Linked DNA regions of Homo sapiens: region 1 is linked to region 2. A link means that fine-mapping ties the variant in region 2 to the expression of a gene that starts in the linked region. Tissue or cell type: cerebellum. Region 2 holds a variant in brackets; the other region holds the start of a gene. All regions are shown on one strand. Distances are from middle to middle.

Region 1 (2,613 bases), 310 kb after region 2:
TATCATTGTTGGCGTCCTGACCCAAATACAAGGAAACCTCCACATTCCATTAGCAGACTCAATTTGGATTCTGCAGCTCTGCAGGGAGAAATAGCATCTTCTCCTTAGCTAGTTGTGCTGCACTCTTGAGATAATTCTCTTAGTTTAATTTTAACATTTGGTTTAAGAAGATGCTGATGGATCAAATTTGAAACTGTGGATCCACTAAACGCCTTTTTAGAAGGTTTTTTTTTTTTCTTTCAAAATAGCAAGCCTTAGGAGCTCAACTCCAGAGCCAATTCACTTCGCGTGAAGTCGGCACTCCTTGGGAGTAGAGGTCCCCTCTCACCGGCTCCCACCCTCCAGAGGGGAGGATTTCTGGGGAGCCCGACGATCCGCTCGCTTTTAGCCTTTCTCCTTGCAACGCGCAAATCTCTCCCTAGTTGGGCTCAAGTAGAGAGGATCACCAACTGCTCATCCCAGCGGACACTCTGCAAAAAACTCTAATGGCTTGTGCGCGGGTCCACGCTGGTCGCTAGCGGCGCCAACTTTACTCATTCGTTAATTTGCTAGTTTTTGGACTGAGTAAAACAGCCCCCAAAGACGCGGGCAAACGCCGCTCTAAAGCCCACTACCATGCAACGCCAGGTTGCTCGGAGCCACGCTGGTGGCACTTCCCCTTCGTGCTCACTCTGCACAGGCACCTCCAGAACCCCGTGCAAATGAACCCTACCGGGAGACGCAGGTGGGCAGGTCGGGTCGGCAGGGACCAAGAGCCTGAAAGGGAACCTGCCCTCCCCTCCCCGCAGCCCGGTCATTAAGGCAAGAAACTGCAGGCAGAGAAGCCCCCGAATCCGACCTAGGACGTCGGCGCCTGCCAGGATCCCCTCGCCTGCCCCCCGCGCCCCGCGCGCGCTCATGCCACCACCACGGGGAGGGTGCATGCGGCAGGTGCCTGGCCGAGGCCCCCGGGAGCGAGTCGCCCTTACGTGCTCCAGCTTGTCTTTCCTCCGAAGCCAGACGCTGGCGCTGTAGTCCTGCTGCTTGACGCTGCTGTAGAAGTTCGCGCCCACTCGGGTCAGGCTTGGGGAGGGCTCCTTGGGGCGGCTTTTGAGCCTCATCTGCTCGAAGCCCTCATGGGGGGAGGCCGAGAGCCACTCGTGCTGCCGGATCTCCATCCTGACATGACCGGGCGGCCGCCGGCGAGCAGCGGACTCGGGACGGGCGCGCGGGGAGCCGGGCGCGGAGGGCGAGCGGGAGGCCCAGCGGGAGCCGGAGGTGGAGCTGGAGACTGAGCTGGAGGAGCTGGAGGAGCGAGCGGGCGCGGGGAGCGCGGGGTGCTGAGCGCCAGCTGGGAGCGCGGCCGGGCGGGAGGGGGCGATCGCGGGAGGCGCGGGGCGGAAGGAGGGAGGGCGAGGTGCGGGCGGGGGCGGGGGCGGGGGCGGAGGGGGACGGACGGGGAGAAGGGGGACGAGAGGGGACAGGGAGGGAAAGGAACCTGCTCCGGGGAGACAGAAGTGCCCGGTGCGGCGGCGACGTCGCCCGGCGGCTGCGGTCCCGAGCGGGCGCTCCGCTCGCCGGCTCCTTGCGGCACCTACTGGGACCCGGGCCGGCTCCCGGGGCGGCGGCGGCGGCGGGGGTGGGGTGCGGTGGGAGGGGCCGCGGCTGGCCCAGCCAGCCCGCGCCTGCAGGTTGGTGCAGTGAGGAGCCGCCGCCGCCCCTCCCGCCGCGCCCAGGCCCGGGCGGCCGCGCTCCCGCTCCGCACCCGCCTTTCCCGAGCAGGCTACACCTCTCCCTGGCGCATCTTTACTGGAAAGCCGGCAGGCGAGGGGAGAAGTGAGCGCCGTCTCCGCGCCTCCTCGGTCCTGCTGGCTGAGCGCGGGGATGGCTCCGGAGGGAGACACTCAGGAAACCACCTCCGCCCTTCCCCCATCTCTATCCAGCGGCGCCCCCTCACCCTGCCCCCGGCTCGCTTGGGCTGCGCCTTCCCCCATTCTGAAAGTTCACTAACTTCCCACCCCAAGGGACTTAGAGCAGAGGGTGCCCAGCATTCCCCCCTGAAAATAGCCGAGAGACATGTGTTTTCTGGAGCCGTACACGCTACTTTCATCCGATGGTGTGGCGATGCAAATACGCCCGGGGGCAGTAGCCCCTCGGGCAGGCACGCGGGACCGGTTGCTCCCCAGCCCTCGGTGTCCACCTAGAACCGGGCTCCCCGGGCCGCACCCATTCCGATCCTGGGAGGGTGATCCAGGGCTCCTCTGCAACGCTCCGCTTGTGCGGTGACTGTTCCTTAGGTGGACGTGGCCCAACTGCTGTGCATTTGTTTCTTTTCTCTGTTTCTAGGCCCCTAGGGTCCAGGCTTTTCCTTCGGGGCCCAGCCAAGCGTGATGATTATTAGGAATAGGGTGGCTTGTTCGCGATTAAATCTTCAATCTCTTCATCTTTTGCTATCTTTGGAGTCAACCTCTCGAAACATTTTTTGGTTTTATCTAAATGCTAAACAGCTGGTGTTCAGGGTGTCTCGTGTCTGGTTAAAAGCTTGGGAAGTGTATGGAAGCTGGAGAGGTATACAGGGGATTTTAGAGGGTGTTGCCAAGGGTAAACTGAAGGCTCTCTAGCCCTCGGCAGAAC
Region 2 (2,756 bases):
AAACCGTTCTGTAACATAGAAGTGCCAGGTGAAGCAGAAAGTGATGATAGAGAAGCTGCAGTAGTTATCCAGGAGACCTAGCTGGGATCATCGATGAAGCTGGATACACTAAACAACAGATTTTCAATGTAGACAAAACAACCTTCTATTAGAAGAAGATGCCATCTAGGACTTTTGTGGGAGTTCAGTCAGGCTCGTGGGAAAAATTTTAAGATGAAGTTATAGGATATACACACAAACCTTCTTGGAAGGCCGGAAGGTTTTGCAAAAGTTTCAGGATAGGGTTATGGCTAAAAGCAGCCTAATCCTTACCTTGAGTTAGTAGCTTGGGACGCAGATACAAAGGAATGTAAAGTATTTTATCTAAATAGCTTGTTTACTCATGTGGTCCTAAGACCAACCTTTGATCATTTGTGGGCAGGATGGCCCTCTCCAGGGTGGGGGCAGCCAGGTTAATTACCCACAGTGGTTGACTCAAAGCCTTTGTCAATTAAATCTGTACTAACTAAATACAAGCATTGCCAGCTTGGAGGAGCTGCAAAACTCTCTTCGGCTGCTGGTGCCGGCCGCCCCCTGGCCTGCTCTTTCACTGAGTATCAGTGTCTGAGTACCTGTCTCATCCGTCATGCAGCTGAGGTCTGTAGGACAGACCCCCACAAGTGGCGCCCTGCATGAGGAACGCTACAAAAGGATCACGATGGACCCCCCGAAAATGAAGGTGAAAAAGGAACTGCACAGTCAGTAAGTCATTGGTGCCTGCTCAGGATTTCCAAGTTCACAGGGGATTATTCAGGCTAGGGTTTCATCACAGGACAACAGTTATCAGCTTAACAGAAACAGTATATAGAAGTATTGAAACAGCTGCTTAAAGCTAGTGGAGCCTATGTTTGGCAGGCTCAATTAAGGGACCTAATGCAAACTGTTGTATCCCAAAACCCATGGTTCCCTGAAGAAGGCATGCTAGACGTAAAGCTCTGGAACAAGTGGGGAGAAATCTTAAACATTGCATGCAAGGGCAAGGTCCCAGTATCATCTTTAATGCTATGGGCCTTAGTTAGGGCAGCCCTGGCTCCATTATACACAGAAGAGCCTAAAAAGGAGAAGGAGGAAGAACCATCACCTGCTTTACCACCTCCTCTTCCCTCAGCCCCGATATCACCAGGCCAAAATAAAAAAGGGGAAACGGAGGTTTTGCCTAAGCCCCCTCCTCCAGTAGATAGGAAAAAGGACAGGGGATATGCTACAGCGAAGAGACCCTGTCTTAAGCAAGCAGCATTAAAAGGGGAGCTCTTTGCCTGCCCAGTAATGCAAGATCAACAAGGCAATCAGATGTATAAACCCATTTCTTTTAACGCTTATTTAAAAATACGAAAAAACATTAAAGACCAGAGCTGCGCGACCATGCGAGCGGTGGGCAGAAGGAAAGGCTCAGCAGCAGGGAGGCTTGCAGACCTGGAGCCAACA[G/A]ATGCTCCCAGGAACTCGACCTGCATAGTAGCAACGCAATGAGGAGCCAGGCCCAGCATGCAGAAGCTAGCCTGCTGGGGATGGGCAGGAGGCACATGCAGGAAGGTTTGTGCAGCAGGCAGCAGCCGCCAGGCAGCGGGGTGGAGGAAGGAGCAGTACAGAAAGAAGCAGCACAGACAAAGCACAGCGCCTAAGCAGGTGCAAAGTGGCTGCCGCCCTGGGGCCTGCCTGCTCAGCTCTCCAGCTCTCCGGCCTGTGGCAAAATTTTGTGTGCTCCTTATGTACAAGCGACATCCCAGATTGTAATTCTATGCTAAGATTTGAGTAAAATTTAAAAATTTAAAAAACCTCTTTCTGATAATGGCCACCGTTATCTCTCTCCTACCCCTGACGTGGCTCTTTCAAGATCTGATTTGGGTAGAACAGTTGCCTTTGAAGGGAGAGAAATTACAGAAAGCCCATGAATTAGATAAAGAGCAATTAAAAGCTGGACATGTAGAACCATCAAATAGTCCTTGGAATTCGCCCATTTTTGTCATTCCCAAAAAGTCTGGTAAATGGAGACTTTTGCATGACTTACATGCTATTAATGCCAATTTGCAACCTATGAAACCCCTTCAGCAGGGGCTCCCTTCCCCCGTGGTGATTCCTCACAATTGGCCTATAATTGTTATTGACTTAAAAGACTGTTTTTATATGATTCCCCTAGCAGAACAGGACAGAAAAAAATTTGCGTTTACAATAATGAAAGGCCAGCTTGTCGATTTCATTGGAAAGTGCTTCCTCAAGGAATGCTAAACAGTCCTACCATGTGTCAGTATCATGTAAATCAAGCTTTGCTCCCCAGTAGAAAAGAATTTCCTGATTGTAAGGTTATTCATTTTATGGATGATATTTTACTAGCAGCCCCAACAGAACTAATGCTTTTAAATCGACATACCTCTGTCATAAAGAATACAGCTAAAAGGTTTAATTATTGCACCTGAAAAAGCACAAATGTCCTCTCTTTGGAAATATCTTGGGTACATACTAACGTCCCGGTCAGTAAGACCTCAAAAGGTTAAATACTAGCAACTTACACACTTTAAATATTATCAGAAATTACCAGGCATATCAACTGGCTCTGCCCCACTTTAGGCATTCCGACTTATAAGCTGCAAAACCTGTTGTCTATCTTAAAGGGCAATACAGTCCTGGATTCTCCCAGAGAGTTAACCCCCGCAGCAAAAAGGGAAATTGAGAAAATAGAACAAGCCACCTCTCAGAGGCAACTAGATTGCACAGACACCCAT

Alleles and levels. Positions count from the first base shown, and alleles are read on the strand shown. Sizes are in standard deviations (SD) of each study's normalised expression.
In carriers of allele A in region 2, the expression in cerebellum of the gene that starts at base 1,578 in region 1 tends to be lower than with G alone (moderate effect, 0.60 SD a copy in GTEx).

The links. PIP is the estimated chance that this variant, and not a neighbour inherited with it, causes the effect.
Region 1: it holds the start of PLD5, and the variant in region 2 is fine-mapped to the expression of PLD5 in cerebellum (GTEx, PIP 0.98). The same link has a PIP of 0.9 or more in cerebellar hemisphere.

What each region holds. Positions count from the first base shown.
Region 1 is chr1:242,523,120-242,525,732 of GRCh38, forward strand. PLD5 (phospholipase D family member 5) reads right to left here and starts at 1,578. Exons shown (of 10, transcript NM_001372062.1): 1 at 969-1,578. The coding sequence starts at 1,157.
Region 2 is chr1:242,211,013-242,213,768 of GRCh38, forward strand. All of the region lies in intron 5 of PLD5 (phospholipase D family member 5), which reads right to left. Among named protein-coding and RNA genes, the nearest start is that of MAP1LC3C, 210 kb to the left of the region's middle. RefSeq lists an enhancer at 1-493. The variant G/A (reference allele first, on the strand shown) is at 1,465.